5 separate regions of the Homo sapiens genome follow, and all the other regions are linked to region 1. Evidence: fine-mapped expression QTL. A gene starts in region 1. Each other region holds a variant in brackets. All regions are shown on one strand. Distances are between the middles of the regions.

Evidence for each region. PIP is the estimated chance that this variant, and not a neighbour inherited with it, causes the effect. A credible set is the group of variants that fine-mapping cannot tell apart.
Region 2: its variant is the best candidate, but not a certain one, in a credible set for the expression of INPP4B in whole blood (INTERVAL, PIP 0.87).
Region 3: its variant is the best candidate, but not a certain one, in a credible set for the expression of INPP4B in rectum (CEDAR, PIP 0.51).
Region 4: its variant is the best candidate, but not a certain one, in a credible set for the expression of INPP4B in blood mononuclear cells (TOPMed, PIP 0.78).
Region 5: its variant is the best candidate, but not a certain one, in a credible set for the expression of INPP4B in nasal epithelium (TOPMed, PIP 0.77).

Annotation. Positions count from the first base shown.
Region 1 is chr4:142,843,743-142,848,876 of GRCh38, reverse strand. INPP4B (inositol polyphosphate-4-phosphatase type II B) reads left to right here and starts at 2,576. Exons shown (of 26, transcript NM_001101669.3): 1 at 2,576-2,668. The region is part of intron 3 of USP38-DT (USP38 divergent transcript); the gene reads left to right. RefSeq lists an enhancer at 1,233-1,819.
Region 2 is chr4:142,693,538-142,698,671 of GRCh38, reverse strand. All of the region lies in intron 2 of INPP4B (inositol polyphosphate-4-phosphatase type II B), which reads left to right. Among named protein-coding and RNA genes, the nearest start is that of INPP4B, 150 kb to the left of the region's middle. The variant A/T (reference allele first, on the strand shown) is at 3,215.
Region 3 is chr4:142,321,008-142,326,007 of GRCh38, reverse strand. The region is part of intron 7 of INPP4B (inositol polyphosphate-4-phosphatase type II B); the gene reads left to right. Among named protein-coding and RNA genes, the nearest start is that of INPP4B, 520 kb to the left of the region's middle. The variant C/A (reference allele first, on the strand shown) is at 2,359.
Region 4 is chr4:142,656,173-142,661,306 of GRCh38, reverse strand. All of the region lies in intron 2 of INPP4B (inositol polyphosphate-4-phosphatase type II B), which reads left to right. All of the region lies in intron 2 of LOC101927613 (a long non-coding RNA gene), which reads right to left. Among named protein-coding and RNA genes, the nearest start is that of INPP4B, 190 kb to the left of the region's middle. The variant C/T (reference allele first, on the strand shown) is at 2,007.
Region 5 is chr4:142,520,581-142,525,714 of GRCh38, reverse strand. All of the region lies in intron 2 of INPP4B (inositol polyphosphate-4-phosphatase type II B), which reads left to right. Among named protein-coding and RNA genes, the nearest start is that of INPP4B, 320 kb to the left of the region's middle. The variant A/G (reference allele first, on the strand shown) is at 2,759.

The sequences.
Region 1 (5,134 bases):
AAAATATTTTGTCCTTCATTGGCAAATGGAGTTATGTTTTGGGGGTACAAGTCAGCAAAAGTTCAAGGTTTGTAAAAGTGAATGCTGAATGAGTTTATTAAACCACGGAAGCATCTGAATCCTCCAGGCTTATTCAAGGAAAAAGCCACCAAATAACTAAAAAAGGTAAATATCAGGATGATTGATGGATTTTTAAAAATGCCTTGTGGTACATGCATCTGATGGCATCCTGATTCATATTCTCTCTTTTCTGAGAATTCAAACTTCCTACGTGATGTACACAAGTAAGTCACATATTCTTCAGCCGCCCTGTAAAAGGACTTTGTCAGCATGGTCCATGTCTGGACTTTAATTATAATAGGGTCCTCTAAGCATCTCACTTTAAACGTCCATTTCCATAGAATCAGTAACTGCATTTATTTTACAACTCAGTCTTTTAGGAGGTATGGTTTGGTATTTCTGGCATTGCTGCTGTAGTCTTCATAAACACACACACGCACAGACACACACACACACACACTCTTCCACTTAGAGGACAGATATGTTAACCATATTTCCAATTTAGTAGCAAAGCTCTGACATCCTAATGTCCTGATATTATTTCAATCTCTCTCTATTGTGAGAAAAATCAGAAACTGCCCAGTGAGAAAGTTGTATCATCTTTCCAGCAGATCTCTATGAACACGGCTTACCCATTGCTTGGAGATGGGTGTGTTCAGTGCTGCCCCATGGAGGAGAAATCTAACTGTGTGAAGGCTTCTCAAAGCTGATCCACATCTTGACAGGGATTATTTGTTCCTCACTCTCCTATCTCTCTGCATTCAGCTCACTTGGGGTAGAGGCTGAGCATAGGAGAAAAAGCTTGAAGAGAAGCAAAAGGAAGGGCTTCGGGGGCGCCAAGCAGTTTCTGGCCTATAGTGTTTATTATTTGATTCTATAAACATTTATTGAAACTACAGAATATTAGGTATTGTCCCAAGCTCTGGGAGCAGAGTGATGAAAAAAATAAATGAAACGAACAAACAACTCCCCCCACCAAACAAAACAAAACAAAACAAAACAAAACAAACCCAAAGTCCCTGTCCTCATTGGCAAGGCTTATAATGTGGTGGTCAAAGGTTTGAGGAGTGAAAGGATGCCTAGATGCGGGCAGTGACAGCAGGGGTGACAGCTGGGGGTACATACAGCTTCCTGGTTTGTGAAACTGTTAAGCCCCGACTTAACCCAAATTGATTTCACTGTCCTGACTTTGAGATTCCAGTCTTTTTGCATGGCAAATGTAACACTTGTGTACAAGCATTCGTACACTGCTTTACTTAAAATGTGATTTTAAAGCGCCCTCAGGGAGAAGGGCTGGGGTGTCTTGATGGGCTGGCTCTGGGCACCTTTACCTTTGAACGGCTCCATCAAAACCTTTCCGAGAGAGCCGCCAGGTGGCACCTGTAAAGCGCAGATGGGGAGAGTCATTTGCCCCACACCCTACACAGCCCGGAATAACCAGGGTGCGTGCTTTCCCCTGTGGGCTTGTTAGGGGCTAGGAAGTGGGGGAGTTTTAGTCTCCGTCCAGACTGCTTGCTTACATACCCCGTTTTCCTGATACCCCAACACATTCAGGGCGGATTTGTCCCCACGCACCCGGGATATCAAAGGCATGTCATACGCTAGTTGGGAGCATCTCGGCCTCAGTCACCCGCCGCGACGTGGGAACTGGCGGTGGGTGGCCGAGGGCTGCTCTAAGCTGGTCTCCTCAGCCCGACCTCTGCCCGGGGCAAGGGGGAGGAGGGGCAAGAGACAGGGGTCCCAGCGCGGCTGCAGACTGGGGTCCAGCAGGCGTGAATGGATGCCTAGACGCAGGCAGTGACAGCAGGGATCCCAAGCCCCTTCCAAAAACCCTCGGTCTAGGGACTGCGCTGCCATAGGCCGGGGTCTGGGGCGCTTTCTTCCTCCCGCGGGTTCTTTCTCTGTGGTTTCTCCTGCCCCCGCAGCAGCGTGGCGGCCTCGGGTCCCCCCTCGTCGCGGTAGCGGTGATCCCACAGCCCAGTCTGGGTGGGCGACCCAGCGGGCAGAGGGGCCGCAGAAAGGGGTCGGGGTACGGGGTGTGAGCACACGGAGCCAGCGTGGTAATTTCGGGGTGGGCAGCCGGGCCACCATCTCCGCTCTATCAGTAGCGGGAAGCGAGCAGCGCCAGTTGCGCGACTGTCGCTGCCACGGCCGCCTCTACTCGGTCGCTGGTGACATTGGGAGGAGACCGCTTGGAGAGAGCAGAGGAGGAGGAAGAGGAGCGGGGAGGGTGGGGGTTGGGGTGGAAGAAAGTAGCAATTGTGCCAGGGGGCGTGTGAGCAGCCGGAGAGCCAGCCGCGCTGGTGACAACTTCTCTGGGGCGCGCGCGGGGCTGGTAGGCGAGGAGCGAGCAGGGAGCGCGGCCGAAGCCAGAGGCTGGGGGAGCTGCTGGAGCCTCGCGAAGCCGCGGCCGGCGCCCTGCGCCGTCGCCGCCGCCTGCTAGTTTCCTCCGGGTTCTCAGCCCCGGGTACTGAGGCTTCGGTCTATAAATAGCAGGTTACAGCTCCTCCTGGGCGCGCACACGCTCACACGCTCGCAAGCGAACGCAGGAAAGTCAGGCTAAAAGTGTCTGCTGCTGCTGCCGCCCCCCACTCCGCCTCCGGGAGAGGTAATTACCCGCCTGGGATCCTAGGGCTCGGTGGGGGAATTTTGCAGGGTGGGGTGGTTGATGGTGGGTAATCCGGGAGGCGAGGGAGCGTGTCTGAGAGCGTGGCGGCACGTCTTGGAGGGGGGAGCCTGTCTGTTTTGCATCAAGTTTCTCCGTCTTGCAGCCTCCATCACCCCTCCAGCTCTTTAGCTTAAAGGGTGGGGTGGGCTGTCTCTCCTCGGCTGCTGGGGTACCCCTGTCACCGCGCCTACCCTCTCGCCGAGCGCCCCTCTGCCCGGCGCGCGCGCGTTTTCGCATTCTCACTCACACACGCACACTCTCCGGGCCCCCGTGGAACTCTGAGCTCTGGCCTCGCTGACCTTCCAAGGCTGCGCCCACCTGCGCTGTCCCTGAGAGACGCTGAGGTTGGCCCGGGCACTCGCTCTCACTTCCAATCCTGATGATCGCAAGCTGCCGCCGCCGCCGCCGCCGCCGCCGCCGGCCTGGGAAGAAGTCCTTAAGGAATAGAGGCAGTGGTGGGGAGTGAGGGTGACTGATGTTGGTGGTCCCGGTTGCCTTGTTTTTTGTTTTAAAAATAAAGAGCCCATCTCCTTGACCACCTTCATCCCACCCTCAACAACTCATTCTGGCAGAGAAGCCTGGCATGTCTTCTCTCGGCCATCAGGCAGCATCTCTTGTCCTTCCCCAAAGAGGTCTCGCTGAGAGGTTAGGGCCTTGGCGCAAGAGTGCCTGGGTTTGGACGGGGGAGGTCATTGTTTCGGGTCTGAGAACTATGCTGCAGGCTCCTCAAGCTCTCTGGCGCTCAGGCAGGGCCCAGGGCCGGGGAATGTCTGGGAGCCTGGTTCCTGAATGTAGTTTCAGGCTGGTAGCTGATATGAAGATGAGGATGCTAGAACCACATATACCTGTTTTTCCCCCTCCCCACGCTTCTGAATTCTCCCTTCCTTGGGGGCAGTAGTTTCTGCTCCTGGGGAGTCGGTGGAGAGGGGCCCAGCAGTTTCTCTTTGGGGACAAGAGGGTGAGGAAGCACATATTGATTAGGTTGTTGCTGCTGCTGCACAAAACTTACTGGAAAAACCCGGTAGGGTTTTCTATTACTCTTGTTTTAAGGATGTAAATTTACTCCTTTTCCTCTTTTATCTTCTCCCTAACCAGAACTAGTTTTCCTTTCTCTTTCTGGAATGTTATTTGAGGTCATTATATTTTATGACTCCAGATGTTACATTTTGCATATCTCCTTCCTGTCAGTATGACAGACAGAACTTGTTTATAAAGGTGTGGCTCTGTAAGTAAAAGCCTAAAGACAGAGGATAAATTCATCTTCTCTCTCTCAAGATGAGCTCCAGATAGTTCTTTTATAGGTGTACAACTACATTTCAAAGACCTTGCTTGAAAAAGGACTTTTCTTAATGAGTTCTGGACCAGAAATGGTAGTAATCTGACTCAATGATAAAGCAGCGCATAAGGTGCAAGGAATCATCAACAGGGCAGCTGGCTGATGATGTGTAAGAAGTTGAGTAAAGCAAGGACTGGGCAAGTGGGCATTGTCAGTTCACATACTATGCACAGAAATGCATCCTCTCCTTTACGCATTGATGCACATACATGCATTATGTGTTCCTTTGTGATATAATCCTGTAAAGCATTGATAGGAAATGATCAATAGTTTTGTGAAAGGTACATGGGCATTGAAGGTTGAACCTCGTGAATTTGTAGTAATGTAAAATGCTATTGCAAAATGGATTGCTTTTTCAGTGTATTTCCTTAAAATGTGATGTAGAAGATTGTCCTTGAAAGGTTATGAAATGTGTGTGTGAAGATAGGCTAAATGCTCAGTGACATTAAGAAACATGTTTGCAGATTGAAATACTGCTCTTATTCTAGGAGAGTATTCTCTTTGATTAAGCAAATCAATATTTATTTGTGATAAAATAATGATCACTATGATGTGCATATTTATAACTCAAATTTGCTTTTGACTCTTTATAAAGTGTAAGAACAACCAGATAGACCATTTAGTCTTGTCCCTCTATTTAAAGTAGCATGCAGTCAAAGGTATAGGCAGAAAATACTTTTAAAATGTTGTGTTTGAGCTTCAGTTTGGGGCTGCAAATTGAATGACTTCATGTCTCATAAGATTTTTGTCAAAATACTAAATCGCTCTACTATCATAGACCATCAGTTAAACTTGATTATAAAATAATGCTATTATATTTTAGTTGTGTGAAATGGAAAATCATTAAGCTTAGGGAAAAGCCAGATATTTGTTCTAAATTGTGCAAATTGAAAGTAATTAATTCCTTTCTGAAACCTTGGAGCATCTTCTAGTATAAGTACTATAAATCCCCAGATGGGTAACAAAGTTAACTTTCACTACCTTGAGGGAGAACCCAAGATGACAATTCTCTGAAAGACAGAAAAAAAACCTGCTAACTGATCTTAAAACTCATAGCAACCAAATGAGTG
Region 2 (5,134 bases), 150 kb after region 1:
AAGTCTTTGTAACTGCCTGGGGTTAGGCCTGAAAGATCACAGTAGGTTTTTAGCCAAAACCCAGATTCCTCAGTAGACCCTGATGCAGCTTAAAGATTGTTGGACACAGAATGGGAGTTAGAAAAATTAGGAAATGAGATGCTTGTGATTGAGATCTGCAGAAAGTCCAGATATTGGTAGTGACAAGATCTAGGGTCTGGTAATGAAAATGAATAGTCCTAATAAAGTGGAGACAATCATTTAAGACAAAAGGCAAGATCATATCTGTGGATATTGAAATCTCAAATAGTTATGACAAGAATAACACTGGAAGGAGAAATGGTGACCTACCCTTTCAGTGCTAAGATTTAAAAATTAATCTCGTATGTCTTTTTTTCTATGAGAAATAATTTATGAAAACTCTATTGATTTCAAATCAATAAAAATGATGGATTTGTTTCAGAAAAAAATTGTTTATAACTTGTAAGATCTGTAACTTAATTGTTTTCTCTTACTGGTAAGGGCATGTTCATGCTAACAGTAGCCCTATAGCTGTGGTTACTTATCTTAATTACAGCCAAGATTTATTTCAGCTTGAGTGTTTTATAAGCAGATTAGAATTTTAAAATTTTCACAGCCAGTCTTCTTGCATTATACTCTTTTTAAATTCAAGCATGTTTCATATTATAAGAAGCTAACCTTAAATTATAGCCCTTGTTTTGTTAAATATTCAGTATTCTAGGAATTTGAAATTCTCAAATGTAGTCTTTAAAACTCTGAGTTTATCTGATAAGGATTTTATTATTATTGTTATTTACATATGAATACAGGAACAAAATGTGATTTAAGTAAGTCATGGCCTAGAAAGGGATTTGTAATGTCTTGGCCCTATTTAAGAACTTTTACCCATGCCTCATGTTCTAGGATTTCTACTTGATCCAGCTTGGAAATCTGAATAACTCATGATATTGGGAAATTTCCATGGCTGCATTTTCTTCAGTTCCTTGCTTGTAGCTCACCTTTGTCTCCTGTTTTTCTTGTAGGTTTCCAGTATATGCTTTGGCCATATAAAGTAATAAAGCAAATAAGTTCCTATCGTTTAATCATATAGAAAAGCCCAGCAAGAATCCATTGTCCAAATCTTGTTTGATTAAGATTGATTGACAGTTTTATGTAATTGGATGACATTTTTAAGAGAAAATCAACAGAACATTATCACATGGTTAAAGCCTACTGCCAGAAACAATAAACTTGGCTTACCTATTTCGTTAGAGTATTATTTTGATTTATTCACTCATGTATATAATTCACTTTCACAGTTGATCCCAGACTCTGTTTTTATGAATGGCAACTCAGAGAATTTAGGTAGCTTTTCTGGGAGCAAGGTTGATGGCATTGGTGTGGGTTGGGGAAAGCCTAACAGTATTAAAAGGGAGAATGATATAGAGGTTGTTCATCCCATGTTCAGTTACCGATGTGTTTTCACCAAAACCATATAATTTAAATGTCTCCTTTTCCTGGAAAATATGAAGCATTGTACAACAGGTAATTTTAATAACAATGTAACTTAGGCTGCTTATGATTGACATCAACATCACATGTATATAATATGATTGTAAGAATTTTTAAAAATGCATCATTGGGATAATAAACTGTAACTGACATCCTTTTAAACTAAAAGCAGGTGAAAGCTTGCCAGTGTTCCACTCTCTCTGACTTACCATTCTAAGAATAAACACATACAGTGGAGTGTGCGGGGCTGCACACTGTGGTTTTATCTACTTCCTTGCTAGAGGAAAGCACTGTTATAAAAACAAGTAAAACATGCAAAGGGAAGTAATTTAATAAGTAATTTTACAATAAAAGAATGGAACTATAAACCTGCTTTTCTTGGACAGCCTTGGTGTTATCCAATTTGCCCTCTTACTGAGCCTCTCTACTGGCTGGCTGTAAAGGACATGGTGAATTAGGATCAGAAGTCGATGGCTGTGTAGTGCCTGGTTTTGAAATGTTTGGAGAACAACATAAGTAGTAGCTGATGGCAAGGCAGAGGGACGCAGGGTTGAGTGGGCACTGCAGATGCCAGGATGACCCAGTTTAAGTGGGTGTAAGCAGTGAAGTAAGCAACAAAGTTGGGCAAGCACTGAAGGTGTAGTTTGTGTAGGAGACAGATGTCAGGGCTGGGGTGGGGAAAGGGAGTATCTGTACCACAGAATTACAGCCTGGGTCAGTTAGTGCCTTGCACTGATGTTTGTGTATATTTTGTCCCCTCAGCTAGATTTTATTACTCTTTGGGGGTGGTATCCTTGTTTATAATTGTTCCCTTGAGCTGCTGGGCACAGTTATGGAACAAGGTGGGTTGTTGCATGAGGATCTCTTGGAAAGTTCTCCTGGGGCTTTCTGGCCCCTTGAGGATGGTATAAATGCTAGTAGGACCAGGCACACTCTCTGTCTTATCAGACACATGGAAAAGGGCACAGAGGAAATGATCTGTTTTAGAATCAGAGTGTGCCTTAATCCATCGAATATGCTGGTGTCATTATTTGACTTCCTGGACTGTAAACACTGCCCTTCTAGGCTCCTGGGACCTTTCTAACCTTTCCTCGTCTGATAACTTTGTCAATACTCAACATTTTCTTGCTCAATCCAGGGGCACCTGTCTAATTCTCCTAGTCCCAGCTGGCTCTCCTTGAACTTGATCTGTCATCTGATCCACAGTGTCTAGGTTTTGGATTATCCTGGCCCGCCTTTCCCTTGAGATCCCACATCAAGATAAGAAACACTGCCTTGAGCCTATAGGGGTTGAGGGGAATTTGTAGCCCTCTGGATATCCATCTTAAAATATGCCAAATAAGTATATTTTGGGGTAAAATATTTTTATTTCCTTCAAGCATTATGCCTGACAACTAAGATTTGATTGTAGTAACTTAGTGCTCTGTTGGATAGAGCACTGTCATTGTCTTAATGAGCATTATATAACTGATTTAAATTCTATTGCACAGTTTATTAAATCGTATCTGTTGGGTAGGTTCCTGCCTTTGAGGCATGCTGCTAACAACATGATGGAACATCTTATTTTTCTTTCAACTAGTTATTTTCATCATAAATTTATGCATAGTATTTTAAAAATAAACTGATAATTTTCAGATAATTATATTAGGGAAGTGACAGCTGCATTACATTCTATCCTTTGCTTGAAAAGCACAGTAAGAACTAAGACATTTAGATGTTTTAC[A/T]TAGGAAATAATATTTTTGGCATTATTAAAACTCACTTCTATGTATTAATTTAAAAATTTTTATTTTTAGGGAAACAAAATTGCTATTCAATTTGGCAGAAGGTTTGTTTTGGGATTTCTGGCTAACAGAATCTTTGCTTTAACTTTGGCAAGGCTGTTTGAGAATTAGCTTCATATTAGGGACCCTTCAGTTCCTGGGTCATTGTTGAAACTCAGTTTTAGAACTTTATTATCTTTATGCTATTCTGAAATAGGGTCAGTGATCTTGATGTCTCCATAAGGGAACTTATTTTGTCAGGTAATGTTTTGTAGAATTTATACATAATTTTATAATTTTACTACATGGGAATAAGTGTTAATACTAAAAAAAAAGTGAATGATTATGAAGGTGTTGTAGGCACATTAACTTGTGTTGCTATTTGTGCAAATATCCTTGACTTTATAGGTGCAGAATAATACCCCTACCCCCACCACAAGACCCTATTTTATTACTGGATCAATAGTGACAGGTAGGGTTTTTAAACCAGAAAGTGGTTTTTCTTATGTTTTTGCTCCCAGTAGAGAAAATATTTTTTCTGAGGGACTTTTTAGTTGATATCTCTCCCTATACATGCAGTAAAAGCAAATATATTTTTCAAAAATGTTAAGGGAAAGTGTAGGGGCTGTAGGCTCTTCTCAGCGTGAACCCTCTAAGGGTTCACTGAAAAATTAGTGCAATTTTAATTATGTATCAGATGCGGAGCTCACCACAAAGGACGAAGCTGCAGATAATGTCTGACCCTTCCCAGCATAGTTTACCCTGCCTATTAGTTTAGAGCCTAGAATCAAATGCCTCCAAAACAGACAAGTTAAACAATTCTAAAAAATATTACAGAAGTGGTTTATAACCTTCAAACAAGTAGCAAAGACAGTATCTGACCTGCCTGACCAGTTTTGACCAAATGTCTAATTTGGAAGACATTTTTACTTTATCAATAATTTTAAAATTAGCTTTATTTATTAAAGATTATTAAAGACATGTGAACTAAAAGGCATTTGAGTTAAAGGGTTTTTTTTTTCTTTTTTTCTTTTTTGTTTTTTTTTTTTGAGACGAGTCTCGTTCTGTCACCCAGGCTAAAGTGCAGTGGTACAATCTCGGCTCACTGCAACCACTGTTTCCTGGGTTCAAGCTATTCTCTTGCCTCAGCCTCCTGAGTAGCTGGGATTACAGACGTGTACCACCATGCCTGACTAATTTTTGTATTTTTAGTACAGACGGGGTTTCACCATGTTGGCCAGGCTGGTCTGGAACTCCCGACCTCAAGCGATCTGCCTGCGTCGGCCTCCCAAAGTGCTGGGATTACAGGTGTGAGCCACCATGCCCAGTCAGCTTTCTTTTTTAAAAAATTTTTAATAAAATGCTTGATTTAAGCACTTACTTTTTCTTTAAACCAATAAATTAGAGCCCTTTTATTTATTTTAGTAGTAAGACATCACATATTACCAGTGTAATTAAGTAGACATATAGACACATAGAGAGAAGCAGATCTTATAAATTTGTGATATTTTTAATTTGCCAGTTTTCAAGGCTTTTTCTTCCTACTTTAGACTGTCAATTTCTTGATTATCTGTTTCTTTGCTCTCAGTTATTGTTAGCTAGGCAACCTTAAATTTGCATTTCTAAAGGAACAGCTAAGATAAAACAACATATATCATTTGAATTTTGATATTTTGAAAGCATAGCGTGAAGACATTAGGCCTGAATATTGTACCATCACTTGTTCAAACCAAGGGAAAAAAATCATGTAAGTAAATTTTAGTTAAGAAGGTGAGGAAAAGCACCTCAAATAAAGGTATAGCTTATAAATTTAAAATAATGGTTAAGAGTTTAATGTATGCAAGCAGACACCCTTACAAATGGAGAGTTCCTTAAAGATGTCA
Region 3 (5,000 bases), 520 kb after region 1:
ATCCTGTATCTTTCAGTGATTCTCTGATAAAGGAAGGTGATGTCTACAGATATTGTTGCCATTCAGTATTCTTTCACCTGCTTGTAATAGATCTCTATAATAGTCGGAAAGGGAAGTGGAATAAAATGTGGGTAATGGCAGGGATACTCAGAATTATATGACTCTGGAGCCACATTTGCAGTCACTATTAACCTAAAGAACTACATGAGTCCTGTATGACTGGTAGAATTTAGTATAATGGCGCATTCATATAGAGAAATTAGAAGTTTTAAAGCGCCACCAATTAAACATAAAGAGACCCATGTGACTAGGAGCTGTGGTGTGAACATCACTGCTTTAGAGAAATGGAAAACATCTAAGGTTAGAGCATCCAAACTAAAAGAGTGCTTTTATTTGTCTTAACTAGTATTTCTTTTTGGCATGGAAGCCTATAGAATGAACTTGTATACATAATTTGGTAGAGTGTGCTTTGACATTTGAAAGATGATCGCATTTAGTGAGTAAAACCCAAGATAGCATATCCCACTCAACAATTATTGTTTATCCAAGTTGGTTAATTGGGATTGTGTTTAGGCTGCAGAGTAAGCTCTAGTCTTACCAAAGGAACCACCTGTCATTATGCATTTGTAACCAGTTTGTCAAAAACGTAACTCAACAGACAGACCAATATTTAAATGGCATTTTTTCCTCTCCAGTTACATATAACCATAGTCTGTTGAATATCATTTTTCATCCCTTGACCGCATGTTTGGAAGATTTCTTAGCTTACCAATAACTTTTCTGGATATTAAGGAGTTCGGTTTGGGTAGGATGTGGTAGGTGGGACAAGCACTGCTCCTTCTGGCAACACCTAGAAAAGAAGCTAGGCTGATTGCAAAAATCACATGTTTGAAAGCACCGTTAAGCTATCAGAGCAAAAATAACTAGAGAGACCAAATTTCCAGAGCAAGGAGAACCTTTCAACGCTGAGCTATCGGGAGCCATGATTTTTGTCTAGGGGTATTTGCTGACTCTGAGAGTGGACTGAGGAGTAGGCCTTTGCCTAGACAGAGAGCTGCTGCTTGGAGAAAGAGAAATCAAAAAAGCTTTCAGCAGTTGTATTGGATGAAGTGAGAAATGGAGACTTCAGGGGCCTCAAGTAAGTGGCCATTTTTTTCTCAGAAGAGACTTGGTGAACTCTGACACTTTGCAGAAGGCTGGAGAACCAGGTCAAAGGCTTCCAAAAAGCAAAGTGAAAGTCCCCATAGTTTCACAGTGCTTGGGAAACTAGAGAGAGAAACTGACAACAGGCAAGAGATGCCCTAGGGGGAGTGCTGAGTTGACACTGAGAAACTAAAAAGCCGTTTTTCACCTGGAGGTATTCACAGAGTCTCCCTGTGGCTAGAAGTCTGAATATCAAGGTTTTGCCAAACAGAAGGTGGCAACTGGCAGGCATAACACTCAGCAGAGATTTGGGTTTTCATGCATAGTTGGAATGACAGTTTTGGAGTCCAAAAGAGATTCAAACTCATGGCTGGTCTCCCTCTAAAGACTTTTGTCAGATTCTGAGGCTGTGTCAGGTATAATGTTAAAGAAGTATAGTGGAATGTCTTAACAATATCCACTTTTTCAGGGCTGAGAAGCAAAGGCCAGTCAGGCTGTTGGTTGAAAACACAGAGGGCCATACCAGATAACACAGGTAGACTTAGAATCTTAGTTGGCTAGGGCTACGCATAAGTAATACCATAGACTGGGTAGCTTAAGCAACAAAAATTTATTTTCTCACAGGTCTGGAGTCTGCAAATCCAAGATCAAGGTGCTGGCAAGGTTGGCTTCTCCAAAGCCTCTCTCCTTAGCTTGTAGACAGTGGCCCTCTTGCTGCCTCTTTGCATGGTCTTTCCTCTGGGCAGAGCTTTTCTGGTATCTCCTCTTTTTCTTACAATGACACCAGTTACATTGGATTAGCACCCTAACCCATGGGTCTCATTTTAAATTAATCACTTCTGTAAAGGCCCTATCTCAAATAATTACGTTCTGAGCTACTTGGGAGTAAGGGCTTCAATATATGAATATTGGAGAAACACATTTCAGCCAATGACACTGAATTGTACCAACAATTCCAGCCCAGCTCTGTCCCAGATCAATCTCTGACTTGATTGAAGAGTGACTCCCTACCCCTCACCTTACCTGCCATTTGCCTCACATAAAAAGGGGGCACCTGTCTGCTGGAAGGTATCATCTGGAGCTTTTACAGTGGCTTGACATTAAAAAAAAAAAAAAGATCTGCTGGGCGCTGTGGCTCACGCCTGTAATCCCTGCACTTTGGGAGGCCAAGGCGGGCAGATCACAAGGTCAGGAGATTGAGACCATCCTGGCTAA[C/A]ATGGTGAAACCCCGTCTCTACTAAAAATACAAAAAATTAGCCAGGCGTGGTGGCGGGTGCCTGTAGTCCCAGCTACTGGGGAGGCTGAGGCAAGAGAATGGTGTGAAACCGAGAGGCAGAGCTTGCAGTGAGCCAAGATCGTGCCACTGCACTCCAGCCTGGGCGACAGAGTGAGACTCCGTCTCAAAAAAAAAAAAAAAAAAAAGTCATCATAACCGTAATAATGAACCTCATTTCTATTTCAGGCATGTTTAGGTGCAATGAAGACCTGTTCTCATTATGACCCATTTCACTCATGAGCATTCTTCCAAACCAGAGCTTCTCAAACATTAATGTACACATAAATGAATTGGGAATCTTACCAAAATGAACACTATGATGCACGTGTCTGTGGTAAGCCTGAGATACTGCATTTCTAACAGACTTCTAGAGAATGGTCTGGAGACCATCCTTCTGACCAGCTGTTGACCAGCAGGGGATGAGTATGCACACTAAAATTTAAGGAACGTTTCCTAAAAATGTCTGAGGGCCTTCTAGCTCTGATGATCTGTTAACTTTTTTTGTGTGTCCTTTTCAAAGGGAACCATATTTGATGGCTTGAACATGGCACAATGTGTTTTAAGATTCTTCATAGGACTTAGAGCTAGTTTGTGAGGCTCATTCTTACCAAAAAGTAATCTCATTTATTTTATAGCAATAGTTCTTTACTCTAACTTTGGCTTCACATTAGAATCAAGTGGAGTATTCACCTTAAAAATACTGATGCTTGGGTCCTTCCCTTGGACATTCTGATTTAATTATTCTGGGGTGTGACCTGTGAATTGGCATTTAAAACAAACACAAAACCAAAAACATGTTACAGGCGATTCTACTGTGTTGTCAAGGTTAATAACAACTGTTTTAGGGTAGCACATTTTAAAAACTAATTTTACTAAAATAGTAGTGGGCTTGCTTTGGCCCACTCACCTTAGTTACAAAGCATGTTTCTGGTAAAAATCAGCATATGGTAATAATAGCCCACTTTCAAAAGAATTAATATTTACCCATTGTTAATATTTGAAGGAATATTTCTCAGAATTTTTTCAATCCGTTGAAGCTGGGTAGTTGTCACTTCTTATAGACTAGAAATGTGATTCCATTTTGCCAGAGTCCTCTCCAATTCCTATTGTCTCAAACACCCAGGCCACTCCTTTCATTAATTTTACCTACCTGGAGCCTGTGGGCATGTGAGTTTGTAACACTACCGTTATGATACTGATTTGTGAGATAGTAAGCTAGAAATTCCAAATGTTGAAGAAGAAATGTTCAATGTACTTCCCAGGAATATTTCAGATATAATTTTCATATTGCCTAGTTTTTTTTTTAGATTAACTGAGAGATTCCTTGCATCTCTAAGATTCTGTGACCTAAATCATTTAGGTTTGTACATGCATCATTTTCTCCATGCAAGATTAAAATTAAACAACTAGAAAACCGTTATCTAAGACTAGCTGATAGATTTTAGAAAGCTGAAGATTCTTAGCAATTATTATTAGATGTTTGACTCTTACCATGCCATTGTTATTGCGTATCAACGAAATATACCTTGTCTTCTTAATCTCTTACTCTCTGAGATTGCCAGTGCTTATAATAGTGGCTGAATCATAATATGTGCTTGATACATGTTTGCTGGCCTTAAAATAGTAAATGAAGATTTAATGTTAGCTATGTTGCTTTATTTTCTCTTAACCATATACTAAATAAATCCAAAATTTCATTAGAACAAATCTGGAGGCATTACATTACCCAACTTCAAACTATACTATAAGGCTATGACCACCAAAACAGCATGGTACTGGTATAAAAATAGGCACATAGAACAATGGAACAGAATAGAGAACCCAGAAATAAAGTCAAATACTTACAGCCAACTGATCTTCAACAAAGCAGGCAAAAGTAGGGAAACATAAAGTAGGGAAAGGACACTCTATTCAACAAATGGTGCCGGAACAATTGGCAAGTCACATGTAAAAGAATGAAACTGAATCCTTATCTCTGACCTCATACACAAATCGACTCAAGATGGATCAAAGACTTAAATCTAAGACCTGAAATCATAAAAATTCTAGAAGATAACATTAGAAAAACCCTTCTCGACATTGACTTAGGCAAATAATTCATGACCAAGAACCCAAAAGCAAATGCAACAAAAACAGAGAGAAATAGATGGGATTTAATTAAACTAAAGAGCTTCTTCACAGCAAAAGAAAAGAGGAAATCTTTGCCAACTATGCATCTGACAAAGGGATAATATTTAGAATTTACAAGGAACTCAAGTCAGCAAGAAAAAAGCAAATAATTCCATCAAAAAGTGGGCTAAGGACATAAACAAACAATTCTCAAAAGAAATATAAATGGCCAACAAGCCTATGAAAAAGTGCTCAACATCACTAATTATCAGGAAAATGCAAATCAAAACTACAATGTGATGTCACCTTACTCCTTCAGGAATGGCCACAATTAAAAAATCAAAAAAATAATAGATGTTGGTGTGGATGTGGTAAAAAGAGAACACTTTTACACTGCTGGTGGGAATGTAAACTAGTACAACCACTATGGAAAACAGTGCAGAGATTCCTTAACATACTAAAAGTAGATCTAC
Region 4 (5,134 bases), 190 kb after region 1:
ATGTTCTTATTGATAAATGTAAACCTCCCTGGTATTGTAGGACTTTTCTTAGTTCAGCTAAAGACTGGGTTCTTGTCCATCCCAAGGCCACAAAAATTTAGCCTCACAGACAGTTTAAAGGGTGAGCAAAATAGGGTTTTATTGGGTGAAAAGGGAGAAAAACGGGTGGGGGAAACACCTGCCTGGCGTTTGAATCCCAGGTCCACACAGGAAGACGACGAGGCAGGCTCCTCCCTGCTTCAAATCGTGTGAACTTCCCAAGGCTCCACCCCAGTGCGCAGGCTGCTTGGAGTTTCTCCAGGAATCCCCTCCCACTGGCTGTCTCATTCCCCCCTCTAAAGAAGTACATCTAACTGTGGTTAGATTAAGGATAAGGATGAAGACTGATCTTAACCGCTTCCTGCTGACAGGGGGCGCTGTTTTGGGGAAATGGCAGAACTCCCTCAGAGGCTGATCTAAGGGTTCCCGGCAGAAGGGGCCATCTTCAGAGGCTCTGGTTGCATGACTGTTTGGAGTTTGATGGCCTGAAGGTAAGAACAGACAAACCCAATTATTAGAAAACATGTATCAAAGTGAAACAAGGGGAGGGGTAAGGACAGCTCAAAAATCCTGAGGCCCTTTACCAGTTTGCATGGAGAGAGGGAGGCCAAAAGCCTGACTAGTTAAAATCTTTACCCTTTTGGTGGCATGTTGGGCTTCTGGGTTTCCTTCCCCTGGGCCCAGTCCTAAGGCAACCAGTTTCAGCTTTGGGAAATTAACTCTTTCCTGTTTGGAAAATGCATCTGAGGGGAGTGTCCCATAGTACAGAGACACAATTAAATATCAGTGAAGAGAGAACCAAGGAGGAGAAAGGAATAAAAAGAAGATGCCTTTTAAAGGAGTTCCAGGGGTTCAGGATACATTTTAAGGGGTACAGACTGAAGATGAATGGCTACCCATCTAGAAAGAGGGGAGTAGCCATCTCTAGTTCCCTTCTCTTCCTAGCAGATACCCAGGGGTAAGTGAGGGAGAGAGAGAACAGCATCCTCTTTCCCTCTTCCATCCTTGCATCCCCAAGTCCTGGTGACCTTGGCAGGTCTCGCCATGCAAAGCAGCTTGTACCCATGAAGTGGGGGATGGGGAGGGGGTGGCTAGAGAAAAGGAATTATCTGTTCTCACCTATGTCTCTTTCCCACCTAATGTCAGTAGCTTTGGAGTTCCCTAGACCTCATTTATGCTATGGATATTAACGTGGTCTTTATCCATGAAACAGGAAGCTTGGGGTTGGCTTAATTGGCAGAAATCAGCCACACTCACCTGCTCGGTGCCTTTTAACCTCTGTTGTTATCTGCCTCTGGATCCTTAACATCCAGTTTTCCTTCCTAGGGCTTTGAACCAAAGCTTAGAATTGAGTCTGGGACAAAACTGTATCTCACGGGTGGGGGTGGGGTTGCATGGATGCCTTATCATAAGCCGAATGCAAGGTGAAGCTGTGGAATTGAGTCCTCCTCCAACAAGGGAGAGGAAAGGATGTCTTGTGAGACACCCAGATGAGTGTTTGCTATAGTTATGCTTGCTAAGATTTGGGTGCATGGTGCTTGGCTTTGGTTAGCTCCCTTGGTTTTACTTTACCAAAAGGAAACCTCCGAGTGATGGGCATCCTATTTATTCCCATCACCTGGCAGGATTTGAAGGATAATTACTCAGAACTAGAATATTTATCAGGATTTCTACATCACCCATCCCTCATGTTGTTTCTGAGCTGCAGCTAGAGATTGCTGGTTGGTTCATAGGAACAAGCAGGGTTAGTTTCAAATGTAGGCAAAAAATTAAAAACAACTAATGAGTTTAGAATTTAGTGACCAATATATAAGTTTTGAAACATAATTTCTCTCTCTCCAGTCCTCTTTTTTTTTTCTTTTGAGACAGAGTCTCACTCTGTCGCCCAGGTTGGAGTGCAGTGGCGTGATCTTGGCTCACTGCAAGCTCCACCTCCCGGGTTCACGCCATTCTTCTGCCTCAGCATC[C/T]GGGGTAGCTGGGACTACAGGCATCTGCCACCACGCCTGGCTAATTTTTTTTTTTTTGTATTTTTAGTAGAGGCGGGGTTTCACCGTGTTAGCCATGATGGTCTCAATCTCCTGACCTGGTGATCTGCCCGCCTCGGCCTCCCAAAGTGCTGGGATTATAGGTGTGAACCTCCGTGCCCTGCCCAGTCCTCATTTTTGTTAAAAAAAAAATTATAGGACTGAATGGTTTGCAAAATAGAATTTAGTCTTAAACTTGGCCTGATTATTTGCATAAAGTGCAGCAAGAATGATTATTTCTACATACGCCTTTTGGGTTGGCTTTAATGGGATTTTGTTCCACAAGGAGTCTCAGATAAGAACTTTTAAAGCCAAGCCCAACCATGGGTTTGTATCTTCAAACACCTGTGAGTTGGGTGCTTCTGTCCTCTTAAGGTCGATAAACTTGGACCTCCTAGAACTGTTAGAACGTGACATTCTTTACTGACCACAGGTCAGGAACCCTGTACAGGGACTGCATAGATGAGGTATGAGACCAGTTTCCCCACTGGGCTTTTATTGGCTCTGCAAGTCAAGATCGTCTACTTAAAGGGAAGCATACCCTTCTAGTTAAAGCCTTGGTAAAATAACCAATTCTTCCAATTGCATCCTGCTGCAAAAGAAAAATGGATTCTTATTGCACTGATGCAAACAACTGTAATGCCGTAAGTTAAGAATGCTCACAGATAGTTTCAAAATTCTAGAGGAACCAGGCAGAGACAAACAAACATGCTCCATATCTTGATCACAGGATTATACCTTGCTTAATTCTTAAAGGCTGTAAATCATTCAAAATAAGTTTCCTTGACTATGAAAAACAGAACAAGGATCAGCAATATTTAAACCAAAAGTCAAAAAGGTTGCTTTAGTTTTCTGAGTTTAGTCCATTTAGTTAGCCCTTGTTTTACTTGATATTTGTGAACATTTCAGCTCTTCATGAGTCCTGTACATTTTCCTGTATTCCAATGTTACAATATCCAAAGTTATCAGAAGCCTGTATTTAAGAGCACCTATTACAGTTTTATAGCTTATTATAAACCATTTTTTGAAAAGGATTAAAGCAAGACAACAATTGTCTGTGAAGAGCAAAATGTTCAGTGAGTTACAGTTAGAAACACAATTGACAAATTTGGTTATCTTCATGGTTTACAATAACTTAACATAACCTTAATTATGATTGATAGCATATCGTTAGACATCAGGATTTTAGAAATCCCATGCAATTTTGGAACATATGTGAACATTATTTTCTAAGAAGATTGAATAACATTTTGGCAATCCTATGTACCTAAACATGTCAAATGATCCTATTTACCTCTCTTTTTGGACACTTCAGGGGCCTTCCGAAGTAATTGAAAAGCCCGGTGTCAAAAAAGACAATTTTGAAACTTAAATTTGATTTTCAGAATCCGTTAAATATCTTCCAGGTTTAAAACACTTGATATTATGAAATAGAATTCCAGATTACCATGTCATTTATTTTTCCAAAATGATGACTCAGAAATTTTAAAGCAGCAAAAACATTTTATAACCTATTTAGTCAATATGTTTACACAAAGAACCTCTTCTGAAAGATTAATTTCCACAGTTCTTTCACCACTTCTTTGAACCTTCAGCTTTTTCCTAATTTAACTCAAAACAATTCTTTAACCCTAGGCAAAAGTTTACATTTCCAAGCCTTCTTATAACCTTTTACTAAAAAACACATTTTACTGTTCTTACACACCCTGCATGTAAATCTATTTCTAGTAGTTTCAATTAACTCCTAGCAATTTTTAACTTTAAGATAAAACTTGGTAAGTTGCTTTGTGTGCTAAGTGCAGCCAAGGTTTGCATTCTTAGTTAAGGGTGTGATTAGTTCCATATGTCCACACCTTACCAGTTGTGAAGCTGACAAGTCAAATAGATCTCAAAACCCAAAAAGCAGTTTGTAACCTCAAAACACTTAACAAACCTTGCATCTGACCTGAATTTTACCAGTGGTCTTTAGGGCTGTTTATATTTCTTAAAGATTAAAGTCATGTGAACTGAAGGATACCACAGCTTTTATCTTCCCTCTAAAAAATGTTAGATCCAAGCGCTTGTTTTTCTTTAGGCCAAATTAATTAGAGCTCTTTTTACAGATATCACACACAGTACACACACAGAGGACCACCCAGTCACTGGGTGCAGCCCTTTAAGAGACAGGGCTAGGAAAACATGCAGATGTCTAATCTGAGAGGGCTCATCCCCTCAGACAGGATTGTGAAACAAAGCCTTGCCAAGTGGCTACTGGCCATGCCCCCAGGATGTAAAGCAAGATGGAGGCTTGCAACACAAACCATACAGACGTGTAAAGCACACCAGATTGGCCACAGCCAAAGACTAGTCCCACAAATCCTTTTCCACAACCAAAACTTTACAGAGAGTACAAACAGTGATAGTTGGGGGGCCTAACCCAGTAAAAACATCTTCTAAAAGGAAAAAAAAATCTTTAAGGGCTAACTTGTTGATGAGGTAGAGAAGGAGAAAGAACAAAAAAGCAGTTTAAAAATTCCTGGGGAAGAGCCTCTTATTCTTGTGCAAATGGTTCCTCCACCAGGGAGACAAGTTTAAGCTTAATTGCTGTCCAATAGAGTTACACCCCTTGGCCAAGGAAGGGGAAGACTGCTGCAACGGGAAGTGGTTAGGACCAGCCAGCCAGCTGTGCGGGATCCTTAGGCCATGCATCCTAGCCCCAGCAAAGCAGGGAGCTGCTGCTCAGCAGTGAGTCCCGAAAAAGGAAGGAAAAGGCCATGAAAAGGCCCAGGATCCACAGGGGGTAGGGGTATGGTTTTCCCCACTGTCAGAAGTCCCAGGATGAAAAGGCTTAGAAGCAACAGTGAGAGGTTTTGTGTCCCCATTTCATTCACCACTTCTCGAGCCCCATGTTGGGCGCCAAAAATGATGCAGGACTTTCCTTAGTTCTGCTACAGACGGGATTCTTATCTGTTTCCCAGCTATGAAAATTTAGGCTCACAGACAGTTTAAAGGGTGAGCAAAACAGGGTTCTATTGGGTGAGAATGGAGAAAAGTGGGCAAACTGGCCAGAGTCTCTCCACTAGAGCACTTCC
Region 5 (5,134 bases), 320 kb after region 1:
GGAAGGGATCCAGTTTCAGCTTTCTACATATGGCTAGCCAGTTTTCCCAGCACCATTTATTAAATAGGGAATCCTTTCCCCATTGCTTGTTTTTCTCAGGTTTGTCAAAGATCAGATAGTTGTAGATATGCGGCGTTATTTCTGAGGGCTCTGTTCTGTTCCATTGATCTATATCTCTGTTTTGGTACCAATACCATGCTGTTTTGCTTACTATAGCCTTGTAGTATAGTTTGAAGTCAGGTAGTGTGATGCCTCCAGCTTTGTTCTTTTGGCTTAGAATTGACTTGGCAATGTGGGCTCTTTTTTGGTTCCATATGAACTTTAAAGTAGTTTTTTCCAATTCTGTGAAGAAAGGCATTGGTAGCTTGATGGGGATGGCATTGAATCTGTAAATTACCTTGGGCAGTATGGCCATTTTCACGATATTGATTCTTCCTACCCATGAGCATGGAATGTTCTTCCATTTCTTTCTATCCTCTTTTATTTCAGTGAGCAGTGGTTTGTAGTTCTCCTTGAAGAGGTCCTTCACATCCCTTGTAAGTTGGATTCCTAGGTATTTTATTCTCTTTGAAGCAATTGTGAATGGGAGTTCACTCATGATTTGGCTCTCTGTTTGTCTGTTATTGGTGTATAAGAATGCTTGTGATTTTTGCACATTGATTTTGTATCCTGAGACTTTGCTGAAGTTGCTTATCAGCTTAAGGAGATTTTGGGCTGAGACAATGGGGTTTTCTAGATATACAATCATGTCGTCTGCAAACAGGGAGAATTTGACTTCCTCTTTTCCAAATTGAATGCCCTTTATTTCCTTCTCCTGCCTGATTGCCCTGGCCAGAACTTCCAACACTATGTTGAATAGGAGTGGTGAGAGAGGGCATCCCTGTCTTGTGCCAGTTTTCAAAGGGAATGCTTCCAGTTTTTGCCCATTCAGTATGATATTGGCTGTGGGTTTGTCATAGATAGCTCTTATTATTTTGAAATACGTCCCGTCAATACCTAATTTATTGAGAGTTTTTAGCATGAAGTGTTGTTGAATTTTGTCAAAGGCCTTTTCTGCATCTATTGAGATAATCATGTGGTTTTTGTCTTTGGCTCTGTTTATATGCTGGATTACATTTATTGATTTGCGTATATTGGACCAGCCTTGCATCCCAGGGCTAATATCCAGAATCTACAATGAACTCAAACAAATTTACAAGAAAAAAACAAACAACCCCATCAAAAAGTGGGCAAAGGACATGAACAGACACTTCTCAAAAGAAGACATTTATGCAGCCAAAAAACACATGAAAAAATGCTCATCATCACTGGCCATCAGAGAAATGCAAATCAAAACCACAGTGAGATACCATCTCACACCAGTTAGAATGGCAATCATTAAAAAATCAGGAAACAACAGGTGCTGGAGAGGATGTGGAGAAATAGGAACACTTTTACACTGTTGGTGGGACTGTAAACTAGTTCAACCATTGTGGAAGTCGGTGCGGCGATTCCTCAGGATCTAGAACTAGAAATACCATTTGACCCAGCCATCCCATTACTGGGTATATACCCAAAGGACTATAAATCATGCTGCTATAAAGACACATGCACACATATGTTTATTGCGGCACTATTCACAATAGCAAAGACTTGGAACCATCCCAAATGTCCAACAATGATAGACTGGATTAAGAAAATGTGGCACATATACACCATGGAATACTATGCAGCCATAAAAAATGATGAGTTCATGTCCTTTGTAGGGACATGGATGAAATTGGAAATCATCATTCTCAGTAAACTATCGCAAGAACAAAAAACCAAACACCGCATATTCTCACTCATAGGTGGGAATTGAACAATGAGATCACATGGACTCAGGAAGGGGAACATCACACTCTGGGGACTGTTGTGGGGTGGGGGGAGGGGGGAGGGATAGCATTGGGAGATATACCTAATGCTAGATGACGAGTTAGTGGGTGCAGCGCACCAGCGTGGCACATGTATACATATGTAACTAACCTGCACAATGTGCACATGTACCCTAAAACTTAAAGTATAATAATAAAAGAAAAAATAATACATACTTTTATTGAAAAAAGAAAAGCTAAAAGCAGGAGGAGAGCAATGCAGGAGGGACATTGTGGGAAGAGTGGAGACTGATTAAGGGTTACAACCCTGGCCTTGCTTTGCCAAGTAGGTGGATTGCAAGGAGAATTTGAAAGCTGAGAAATTATTCTGAGATTGGGAAGCTTTTCAGCAAAATAAAACCTATAACTGAAAGCAAGTAAAGGCATCAGAAAAGAAGAATTTCAGCCCTTTGCATGACAAGTGTACATCTTCAGTTCTGATAATCCTCTTACATCATGTTCACCTTGTGTCTCAGCATCACCTCCCACTCATCATACTCCAAACATGCTCCATCACATTCTCAAACCTGAGTATGCATTCGAATTATCTGGGGGCTAGTTAAAACATGAATTGTTGGTCCACACGTCAGAGTCAGAGTTTCTGATTTAGTAGGTCTGGGGTTTGTATTTGCGTTTGTAATAAATTTTCAGTAATTGTTGTTGCTGTTCATGCTGGAACAACTTTGAGAACCTCTGTCCTAAACTACTACCTTCAATTTTTGTTATATCTTGTCCTCCAAACCACAGCTTGGAATCAACTCTAATTCTCATCTTTCTAGTCAAGCGATGCTCCAGTTTACCTTTGCTTTCCTTGGAATTCCATCTTTTCTTTTCAAACTCACAGCTACTAATCAGACATGACTGCT[A/G]CTAGCAACAAGAAATCACATGATTTCAATACCACTATTTTGAACACCCTTTACATGCAAGTTACTGTGGTAGCCACTTTAAAATATAGTAGCTTGTTAAATAATACTATTAGATAAGTTGTATTAGCTTCATTTATAGGTGAAGAAATTCATTTGTAGTAAGATTAATTCACTTGTAATGGGTATTACAGAAAGGATATAAATGAAGGTCAGTCTGACATGAAAACCCATGTTCTTATTGTGTCCAACCTATATTCAGATGCCACCTGAGGCCACCACTTCTTTCAGGCAGCCCTTCTTGTATGATTAAGCAGGTGATATAGTAAACCGTCTCCCTTCTCTCATCTACTAATGATATCCCCTTTATTATACAGACTTGGCATATGATGATATAGCATTGGAACTCAGTACCAAAGGGATAGATTAACCAAGAAATATCACTGGAAAGGCCAGGAGTGGTGTTGATTACCTGTAGTCCCAGCTGCCCAGGAGGTTGATGCATGAGGATGTCTTGAGGCCAATTCAAAGCTGCAGTGCTCTGTGATCATGCCTGTGAATAACCACTTCACTCCAGCCTGGGCAACATAGGGAAATCTCATGTCTCGGGGTGGGGGGCGGGGGCGGGAAAGAAGGAAAGAAATGTTCCTGGGACAAGTAAATGTCTACATGACACAATAGTAGATGGAATAAAATTCTCAATTTGAAAAATAAAACTGAAAATTTTAGAAGAAAACATAAGATACTGAAATACAAACTTTAAAAATTGATAAACATAAAAACCTTTAAAAATGCAACAAAAGAAATGGTAAATAAAATCAAAGGTAAATCATAAAGAAAAAAAGTTGGCAATATTGTCATTGTTTTACATATATGCATATTGAATCCAGTAGAGGAGAAATAACTTGCCCAAAGCACACAGCCAGTCAAGTGACAGGGCAAGATTCTAATCCACTGTTGTGATACAGATATTAGGATGAAGAATGTTTTAGTTAATTCACCACTCTGTGCTTTTAAATTATTTCTCAATACCAAACAAATTAACTTGTATTTTGTGGACTCTATTTATACAAATACAATTTCTCAGTTAAAGCAGATGAACTAATTCTATATGCATTATCATAGATATACCACATAAATGTAAATATTGAATAAGACTAGTAAGACTAGTTAATTCACAATGTGTACAAAATGATATTTTTTAAGTTTAAAACACAGAAATCTTATGTATTATTTGTAAATACAAATATATGAATCGAAAGTATAAAATCATGGACAAGAAGAATACATACCAATTTCAGACTACTGGTAATCTCTGAAGAAGGAAGAAGGAAACAAAAGGGGTCAGGATGGCCTTAATTGTATAAGTGATGTTTCATTATTATGTAGCTTTAAAAATCTGAACCAAATATGGCAAAGTGCTAATGCCTGTTAGATTAATGTGGCCAGTACTTGTTGTAGTTTTTTCTCTTCACTTTTCAGGATTTTTGAAATTTTTTATGGCTAAAAATAGAAAATTTAACAAAGGTTTTTCATGGGTTGAAATAAATTTTGGATATTCTTGGTTAAAACACAAGAATTTTCTTTGCTGCAAAACTTTTCCATCATTAATATGCTAATGGAAATATGAATTGCCAAGAGGATAATGTGCTATGAAATATTTCCCAATCTTATTTTACCATGGAATCCTTTTATTTTTGTCTTAATGAAACATCTATTAACAACTCATGGATATTTTGGGAAATGCTGTTATACATCACAGCACTTAATTTTCCCTAATTGTTTCATGTAATTTAACTTAATTTTCCTGATTATATTTTTCATCTCTTTGATACCGAGACCAAAGTCTTATTCCCTTTTAGGTAGACATATAATGGATATAAAAGTAATACTTTGATGGGTTTGTTTGATTTTTCTGAGAAATTATTGTGTAGGTCATCATACTTAATGTAGGTTTGGGGTCAAGGGAGAGAAGTAATAAAAATTGCCCTTGCACACAGTTTTATATGGCACTAAAAAGCAAATCTAAGGAACACAAAGATCATAAGGTCAATGGTATTTATTTTCAAACAAATGGAATATATTTATGCCAAAACTTTGCCAGACCTGTTTCTGTAGACATCTGTCCTTCATTTATTCATTCATTTATTTCAACAAATATTTTCAAATAATCTGAGGAGAAATTATACTTTAATAATATATGGGTAGTAGATAAAATTCAGTGCATCAGATTTCTCAGAATTATATCATCAATAATTTCTCAGAGTAAAATAACTTAACCCTTTTAAAACTATATTAAGTGTAAGTCCAATTTACCATTGTATTTAAATAATTGATTCATTTAAATATTTTTGAATGCTATACACATCTTAAATTCAT